3 linked regions of the Homo sapiens genome follow. The protein of the gene in region 1 purifies or fractionates together with the protein of each later gene. This does not show direct contact. Each region holds a gene or a part of one and is shown in the gene's direction. Other genes may lie near its edges. The genes, in order: CDK6, FKBP5 and CCNT2.

Region 1 (2,737 bases):
GAACTGTCAGCTTGTGCCTTGAGGCTTCCAGAACGTGTCAGATGGAGAAGTCCAAGTTTCCATGCTTCAGGCAACTTAGCTGTGTACAGAAGCAATCCAGTGTGGTAATAAAAAGCAAGGATTGCCTGTATAATTTATTATAAAATAAAAGGGATTTTAACAACCAACAATTCCCAACACCTCAAAAGCTTGTTGCATTTTTTGGTATTTGAGGTTTTTATCTGAAGGTTAAAGGGCAAGTGTTTGGTATAGAAGAGCAGTATGTGTTAAGAAAAGAAAAATATTGGTTCACGTAGAGTGCAAATTAGAACTAGAAAGTTTTATACGATTATCATTTTGAGATGTGTTAAAGTAGGTTTTCACTGTAAAATGTATTAGTGTTTCTGCATTGCCATAGGGCCTGGTTAAAACTTTCTCTTAGGTTTCAGGAAGACTGTCACATACAGTAAGCTTTTTTCCTTCTGACTTATAATAGAAAATGTTTTGAAAGTAAAAAAAAAAAATCTAATTTGGAAATTTGACTTGTTAGTTTCTGTGTTTGAAATCATGGTTCTAGAAATGTAGAAATTGTGTATATCAGATACTCATCTAGGCTGTGTGAACCAGCCCAAGATGACCAACATCCCCACACCTCTACATCTCTGTCCCCTGTATCTCTTCCTTTCTACCACTAAAGTGTTCCCTGCTACCATCCTGGCTTGTCCACATGGTGCTCTCCATCTTCCTCCACATCATGGACCACAGGTGTGCCTGTCTAGGCCTGGCCACCACTCCCAACTTGACCTAGCCACATTCATCTAGAGATGGTTCCTGATGCTGGGCACAGACTGTGCTCATGGCACCCATTAGAAATGCCTCTAGCATCTTTGTATGCATCTTGATTTTTAAACCAAGTCATTGTACAGAGCATTCAGTTTTGGCTGTGGTACCAAGAGAAAAACTAATCAAGAATATAAACCACATTCCAGGCTGCTGTTTTCTCTCCATCTACAGGCCACACTTTTACTGTATTTCTTCATACTTGAAATTCATTCTGCTATTTTCATATCAGGGTACAGACTTATAAGGGTGCATGTTCCTTAAAGGTGCATAATTATTCTTATTCCGTTTGCTTATATTGCTACAGAATGCTCTGTTTTGGTGCTTTGAGTTCTGCAGACCCAAGAAGCAGTGTGGAAATTCACTGCCTGGGACACAGTCTTATAAGAATGTTGGCAGGTGACTTTGTATCAGATGTTGCTTCTCTTTTCTCTGTACACAGATTGAGAGTTACCACAGTGGCCTGTCGGGTCCACCCTGTGGGTGCAGCACAGCTCTCTGAAAGCAAGAACCTTCCTACCTATTCTAACGTTTTTGCCCTCTAAGAAAAATGGCCTCAGGTATGGTATAGACATAGCAAGAGGGGAAGGGCTGTCTCACTCTAGCAACCATCCCTCCATTACACACAGAAAGCCCTCTTGAAGCAAAAGAAGAAGAAAGAAAGAAAGCTTATCTCTAAGGCTACTGTCTTCAGAATGCTCTGAGCTGAATGCTCTTGCTCCTTTCCCAAGAGGCAGATGAAAATATAGCCAGTTTATCTATACCCTTCCTATCTGAGGAGGAGAATAGAAAAGTAGGGTAAATATGTAACGTAAAATATGTCATTCAAGGACCACCAAAACTTTAAGTACCCTATCATTAAAAATCTGGTTTTAAAAGTAGCTCAAGTAAGGGATGCTTTGTGACCCAGGGTTTCTGAAGTCAGATAGCCATTCTTACCTGCCCCTTACTCTGACTTATTGGGAAAGGGAGAACTGCAGTGGTGTTTCTGTTGCAGTGGCAAAGGTAACATGTCAGAAAATTCAGAGGGTTGCATACCAATAATCCTTTGGAAACTGGATGTCTTACTGGGTGCTAGAATGAAAATGTAGGTATTTATTGTCAGATGATGAAGTTCATTGTTTTTTTCAAAATTGGTGTTGAAATATCACTGTCCAATGTGTTCACTTATGTGAAAGCTAAATTGAATGAGGCAAAAAGAGCAAATAGTTTGTATATTTGTAATACCTTTTGTATTTCTTACAATAAAAATATTGGTAGCAAATAAAAATAATAAAAACAATAACTTTAAACTGCTTTCTGGAGATGAATTACTCTCCTGGCTATTTTCTTTTTTACTTTAATGTAAAATGAGTATAACTGTAGTGAGTAAAATTCATTAAATTCCAAGTTTTAGCAGAATGTGTTTTTTTTCTTTCTTTTTTTTTTTTTTTTTTTTTTTTTGGTGCTTCTTATTTGCAACCTGGCCATGTGGTAGAAAGAATGTGTTTTAAAGTTTTACTTTAAGAGATTCCTTTTCAGGCTTCTAGTGTTTAAAAAGTAAATAACAGCTAAGTGAGCTTAGAACTCATTCAACAATTGGCCGGGCACGGTGGCTCATGCCTTTAATCCCAGTACTTTGGGAGGCCGAGGCAGGCAGATCACCAGAGGTCAGGAGTTCAAGACCAGGCTGGCCAACGTGGTGAAACCCTGTGTCTACTAAAAATACATGAAAACTAGCCGGGCATGGTGGCACGCGCCTGTAATCCCAGCTACTCAGGAGACTGAGGCAGGAGAATCACTTGAACCTGGGAAGTGGAGGTTGCAGTGACCTAAGATGGCGCCACTGCACTCCTGCCTAAGCAACAGAGCAAGACTCCATCTCAAAAAAAAAAAAGAACTCATTCAACAATCATGCGTTGCTTAATGACTGAGATAC
Region 2 (3,660 bases), on another chromosome or scaffold:
AAAGTAACTTCCTTTTCATTTTTTTAGTGGCATAGTCTAAAACTGCTCACAATCCTTTTGAAAGACTAAAGAATAGGCCAGGTGTGGTGGCTCATGCCTGTAATCCCAGCACTTTGGGAGGCCAAGGCAGGCGGATCACAAGGTCAGGAGTTCAAGACCAGCCTGGCCAACATAGTGAAACGCTGTCTCTACTAAAAATACAAAAAAAAATAGCTGGGCTTGGTGGCGGCCACCTGTAGTCCCCAGCTACTCGGGAGGCTGAGGCAGGAGAATCGCTGGAACCCGGGAGGCGGAGGTTGCAGTGAGCTGAGATGGCGCCATTGCACTCCAGCCCTGGAGACAGTGCGAGACTGTGTCTCAAAAAAAAAAAAAAAAAAAAAAAAAAAAAAGACTAAAGAATATTAGCACCAAAGAACATAGCCCAGAAGCCTTGCTGTACTACACCTGCTGAAGGGACGGATGGAAATGCTGCAGAGCAGCACTAGGCAGTGCTCAGGCACTGCCCCAAACCAGCCCACAGGCCATCGAGGCCTCCAAGGGAGTGGGAAAGGTACCTGGAGAGCCATCTCCAGAAGGAAAGAAAGAAACCAGCTGTACCAGGGTTTGCTGGAGGGGTTGCTTCACTTTGAGGATTTGCTTTTCTTTTGTACCCCCTCAAGAGCTGAGTACAAGTAATGACGCTTTTTTATCCTAGGGAGGCAAATACATGCAGGCGGTGATTCAGTATGGGAAGATAGTGTCCTGGTTAGAGATGGAATATGGTTTATCAGAAAAGGAATCGAAAGCTTCTGAATCATTTCTCCTTGCTGCCTTTCTGAACCTGGCCATGTGCTACCTGAAGCTTAGAGAATACACCAAAGCTGTTGAATGCTGTGACAAGGTAACATCGTGTCTCCTGTGAGATGGACTTTAGATACTCCAGATCTTTTCTCCATCTCTGTCTTTTGCTTCCTCTCAGCCAAAGGTTGCAGGATTTTTCATTTTGCTTTTTTTTATTTATTTGAATGTTTGGGATTATTTGTTTCTCAGTATGAATTGGGAAATTCAGCAAGATTTTTATTACAGTCAGACTTTTATGATACCTAGACTGTTTATCATAATGCATTCTGAAGAAAAGTTTTGATTAAAATTAAATAATTTTTATCCACGACCTTCCTTATAACTGTAGTATTTATATCAGAGTAGACGTATAACTCCTCAGGTTCAGTTTAATAAGAGAAGATTTAACTTAAGCTTTTCTGGACTTTAACAGACTGCAACTGTTCATATAAAGCATATATATAGGTCAATTTTTATTATAATCATTTATTCACTGATATGCATAAATAATATGAAAGGTCCACAGAGCATCAGCAGCCTTTTTATTTTTACATTTGTCTTATTAATACTATCTTTGGTCTTTTGAGTGCTTACACACAGTACTCTATAACAGTGGTTTATCATCTGTATCGTTATGTATCGTTCTGATATATTTATACACCAGCCGATACTATTTTAGGTATCTGGTCTCAGAGTGAACAGTATATATTATACTGTGGGTAAAAGTAAAAACTAATCATTGGATGTATCTTAAAGGTAGACATAAAAGGATAAGAAAAGCAAGGCAACTATTTTGTACATTCTTTGTGAGATTATTTTTGAATTTTGTGGATCAGTGTTTCCTATCGCATCCTCTCTCCCAAGACCAGTTATTAATTTTATATGTATTTTTTCGTTTTTTTCATACAGAGCGGAGAGAGAGAGAGAGAGAGTGTGTGCGCGCGCGCGTGTGTGTGTTTTGTTTGTTTTAGAGACAAGTTGTTGCTATTTTGCCCAGGCTGGGGTGCGGTGGCTATTAATACACATGAACATAATGTACTACAGCCTCAAACTCTGGGGCCCAAGCTATCCTCCCACCTCAGCCTCCTGAGTAGCTGGGACTACAAGTGCATGCCACCACACCCTGCTAATTTTTAAATTTACTTTTGTAGAGATGGGGGTCTTCCAAAGAGCTGGGATTAAAGTTGTGAGGTACCACACCCAGCACAGCCTTGACTACATTATTTTTCTGTCTTCTATTGACAGAAGCAGTCATATAGCATCACTATTAACCCTATCTTTGGCAATAGGAAGCCTGTTCTCCTTATTTTCCTCTTTTTTTTTTTTTTGGAGATGGAGTCTTTCTCTGTTACCCAGTCTGGAGTGCAATGGCACAATCTTGGCTCACTCTAACCTCCACCTCCCGAGTTCAAGCGATTCTCCTGCCTCAGCCTCCCAAGTAGCTTAGACCACAGGTGCCGACCACCACACCAGGCTAATTTTTGTATTTTTAGTAGAGACAGGGTTTCACCATGTTGGCCCGGCTGGTTTCCAATTCCTGACCTCAGGTGATTTGCCACCTCAGCTTCCCAAAGTGCTGGGATTACAGGTGTGAGCCACCACAACCCAGCAATTTTCTTTTAGCTTTGTTGATTATATCTTTCTCTTTAAAGAAGGTTTTAATGTTTATGTAGTCAGATTTGTCGTCTCCTTTCTAGTTAGAAAAGACTTCCCCACACCAAGATTATAAAAATAACTGAAGCCAGGCACAGTGGTTTACACCTGTGACCTGTAACCCCAGGACTTTCGGAGGCTGAGGCGAGAGGATTGCCTGAGCCCAGGAGATAGAGGCTGCAGTGAGCTGTGATTGAGCCACTGCCCTCCAGCCTGGGCGACAGAGTGAGACCCTGCCTCAAAAAAATAATGATTATATTTTACATATTTTAAAATAAAAAATAATTGAAACATTTTATGGTTTTTTTTAATATGTAAATATGGTTGATCTAGAATTTACTTTTGTGCTTACAATATGAGGTAAGAACTTTTTTTTTTTTTTTTTTTTGGAGACAAGAGTCTCACTCTGTCACCCAGCCTGGAGTGCAGTGGCACGATCTCAGCCCACTCCAACCTCCACCTCCCTGGTTCAAGCAATTCTCCTGCCTCAGCCTCCCAAGTAGCTGGGATTACAGGCGCCTGCCACCATGCCCAGCTAATTTTTGTATTTTCAGTAGAGACAGGATTTCGCCATGTTGGCCAGGCTGGTCTCGAACTCCTCACCTCAGGTGATCACCTGCCTCAGCCTCCCAAAGTGCTGGGATTAGGGTGTGAACCACTGCACCCGGCCTTAACTCTTATTTTCTATGTGGATAGCTGCCATCCTGGCCCCGTTTATTTTAAAGTTAACTCTCCACTGATTCACATTACCACCTTTGTCATTTTCAAATGTTTTTATATGCAGACACATGACTGTTTCTGAATGATTCGTTCTGTTCCACTGAGCTGTTTGTCCACATGCTAGTAACCAAACTGTCTTAATTTCAGTAGTTTTAAAGTTTGTCTTTTTCTCTGGTAAGACAAGTGCCTCTTATTTTTTTCTTTTTTCCCAAATTTTTTCAGCCATTCTTGGGCACTTATTTGTTCCAATGAACTTTAAAATGAACTTCTCAAGAGCCCCCTCTCAAATCTCCTTGGGATCTTTCTAGAAATTGCATTAAATGCAGAAAATAATTTGGGTAGTAAATTTTGATCAGTAGTATGTAATTATCTTGAGCCCCATTTTTTTAAATACACTTTTTCCATCTCCTTTGGCAAGAGAACTTTGGTAAGCTGTTTACTGAATTTATTAAAATTCGTCCTTTCTAA
Region 3 (3,181 bases), on another chromosome or scaffold:
AAAGGTAATTTTATTGAATCTTCATTGGTGCTAATGATGGACAGTTAAAAAGATAGCTAGTGTATATTGTTATGGGTCAGTACTTATTAGTACTTCCAAAATTGAATTTGAAATGCTATGTATTCACTTTTCACTCTGTAAATGTAATTCTTTACAATGACTTTATTTATTAAAGGGCAGCCAGTTGTCATTTTTACAGGATTGTGTGAGCTATTCAAACTCTTCAACCCCTGAACAGGGTATTAAGCTTCCAAAATAATGATGGGGATAAATATGGAAATCCTTTTTAAGTTGTATTTCCATTAAACAAAAACCCTTATAATTCATACTATCATGAATTTGCTTTATCCATCTCATTTGCATAACAGTTCATCTGTCTGGTCCCATTAGGCTCTACCAAAGAAAGACTCTGATGAGTGGACATTATTACTGTGACTCTTGTAAGTAGCCATAAATAAACCAAAATAGTATCAAATTTAGGTATGAAATTCCACATGTGCAAAGTACTGTTAAGGTGATAACATTTTTGATGAGATTTAAAAAAATATTTGAAATATTAAAAAGCATTATCTTTAAACATCCTATAAAAGAGTGAGTCATTTTTAAGTTGTGTTTTCCCTAGATCACTGATTTGTTACCTTTACACAGAAGCACATTGCAAAGAAAGGCTTTATTTCTACCTCTTCCATTCAGTTTTCCAATATTGAGCTGTGTCCCTCTGAATATTTGCCTTAGCTATTTCAAAATAGGTATTTTCAGAACCAAAGCAAAGGGTGGTTTGTTCACTGAAACATTCTTAGAGGCCTACTTAACGGGCGGCAGTATCCGGTAGTGGTAAAACCTCACAGTTTCCTAATTGCAGGTATGTAAATACCAAAAAAGTCCTGTTGTCAGCCCTAGGTTTATCTTTGAAAGCAGTTAAATGTGCACCTTGGTCTTCCTCCGTGTGTTCAGATTCCTTCTGGTTAAAGTTCTTATTCAGAGTCATCTAAAAGAAATTTCTAACATGATGTATGGTTTCTTGAATGTCATGAGTGGCTGCGTATATTGCTTTGTAGCAACAGATTGTATTAATAATTAATAGAATACCTAATTTTTTTGGCCTATCCTCTTTGAACTAGAAATGACTACTTGAGGGCTATTTCAGAGAACCAATATGAAATGTTTTTGTTAGTACAAAATACCATTGCCTTAAAAGGTTTCAAGCACATTTTCTTTTCTATTTGAGAACTTAAATTGCTGACTTGTATTCGTTAAGCAACCTTAGAAATAAACCACTGCTTATATCTGCATGAATATTATGCATTTCATGAGTACAGTTAGTTGATTAGATATTTCAGGGTTTTGCATTTTCTATAGACATGGGGACTTTTTTAACATGGTAACGTCTTAGGAAAACCATTCTCTCAAGGTATTACACCATTTCCAATTTTATCCAAATGAAAAGCATATCTGCTTAAATTTAGGATGTCTTTGCTGAGAATATTTGGAGGCTCTTGTTAGGAAGAATCATGGATTCAGTATTTCTAACCTGATTACTGCCTCAGAGGCTGTCTTGAAGGGAGACAGTAGGATTCACTGACTACCTTTACCCAGATGAGGGATCAACAAATCTCACACTTAAACTAAATGAGTTGACAGGACAATAGGTGCTAATCTCATGTGCCCTAAGATGGACTTATTTAGATAGGGATTTTTGCATTGGAAAAGCAGCACATTCTCTGACCTTGGGTACCAAGCTATGATACTAATTTGAGAATCACATTCTGATACGTTAATATCAGAAATCAGTGAGCAACCTAATTGCTGTAAGCTGACATACATGGAAGCCGAAATCAAAAGGTTGCTTTTGTTAGTTTCCCTGGAGCATCTATTTTTGTAATACATTTTGCCAGTGGGACTGAAAAGCTCAAAATGTTTTAGACCTAATATCATACATTAATTTTCTGCTCTGCAGTGTCAATTTGGGCACAGCCAGTTTTTACCTCTGTGGCACCTTCTTTATAATTTACTGTTACCTATTCTGCCTGACAGATTGATTAAGTAGGTTGATAAGATCCATCGAAGATTGAATGGCTAGGAGTAATTCTGTTCTCGTATAGGCAACTTAACTTCACTGTGGAATCCATTTATCTCAAAGTTTGAGGGCTGTCTACTTTATTTTCAAGTTTGGGGCGGAAACTCAAAATCCCGAGCATTGCCACTTTAGTAGTTTGTTTGATTTGCCTATTGTTTAATAATGAGTACATTCTTATTAAGTGATGAGTACATTCTTAATTTTAAGGTATGTTTTTTTCAAGCAGCTTCATTTTATTAGGAAAAATACATACTCATTTGTTGTAAACAGTGATTGTGGGGTTTCATTTTCTGAATGTACTCAAAACTCCCAACAACAATTGAACAGGATGTTTGCTAATAGAAAATCTAAAACAGGAATATGTGTATATGGCATGAATTAGTCATTGACTTTAAGCTTCTTATCCATACAAGGAACTAATAAAATGTTTATTGACAACATAAATCCAAGGCTCTAACATGTCTTAAGTTAATGTGAATCAGAAGTAACTTTGAGGTGGGGCGCAGTGGCTCATGCCTGTAATCCCAGCACTTTGGGAGGCCAAGGCAGGCGGATAACCTGAGGTCAGGAGTTCAACACAACCCTGGTCAACATGGTGAAACCCTGTCTCTACTAAAAATACAAAAATTAGCCGGGTGTGGTGGTGCATGCCTGTAATCCCAGCTACTCGGGAGGCTGAGGCAAGAGAATCGCTTGAACCCAGGAGGCAGAGGTTGCAGAGAGCCCGAGATCGCACCACTGCACTCCAGCCTGGGCGACAGAGCAAGATTCCTTAACAACAACAAAAACAGAAGTAACTTTCAGTCCCTGGAAAATGTGAGATCTCTAGTATAATTGACCCTTTATCCAAGTAATTTCATGTATCATTCAGGAGTGCAGGCTCTGGGATCAAATGGTCCATGCTCTAGTCTCAGCCCTACCATTTAATAACAGAATGGCATTGGGTGAATTACTTGATCTCATGCTTTTTCTTCCCTACAAAGTGTTAGTAGTAGTACCTGTTCATCATAGAGTTGTGTAAGGCTTGGATGGTCAAGGAAGGCTAGATAGAATAGCATTAAAGAGAATCCTAATTGAGGGGTAGATGTGGGATATTGGAATGAT

The links.
Region 2: the proteins of CDK6 (region 1) and FKBP5 purify together in Homo sapiens (affinity purification with mass spectrometry; 2 studies listed by BioGRID and IntAct, with this or other methods). This does not show direct contact.
Region 3: the proteins of CDK6 (region 1) and CCNT2 purify together in Homo sapiens (affinity purification with mass spectrometry; 3 studies listed by BioGRID and IntAct, with this or other methods). This does not show direct contact.

Annotation. Positions count from the first base shown.
Region 1 is NC_000007.14:92,604,404-92,607,140, reverse strand, and holds the end of CDK6 (cyclin-dependent kinase 6), read left to right. Parts: 3' UTR 1-2,220; downstream 2,221-2,737. UniProt on the Homo sapiens protein: Serine/threonine-protein kinase involved in the control of the cell cycle and differentiation; promotes G1/S transition. Phosphorylates pRB/RB1 and NPM1.
Region 2 is NC_000006.12:35,577,256-35,580,915, reverse strand, and holds part of FKBP5 (peptidyl-prolyl cis-trans isomerase FKBP5), read left to right. Parts: exon of another isoform or gene 1-359; intron 360-694; coding exon 695-880; intron 881-3,660. UniProt on the Homo sapiens protein: Immunophilin protein with PPIase and co-chaperone activities. Component of unligated steroid receptors heterocomplexes through interaction with heat-shock protein 90 (HSP90).
Region 3 is NC_000002.12:134,956,822-134,960,002, forward strand, and holds the end of CCNT2 (cyclin-T2), read left to right. Parts: 3' UTR 1-2,521; downstream 2,522-3,181. UniProt on the Homo sapiens protein: Regulatory subunit of the cyclin-dependent kinase pair (CDK9/cyclin T) complex, also called positive transcription elongation factor B (P-TEFB), which is proposed to facilitate the transition from abortive to production elongation by phosphorylating the CTD (carboxy-terminal domain) of the large subunit of RNA polymerase II (RNAP II).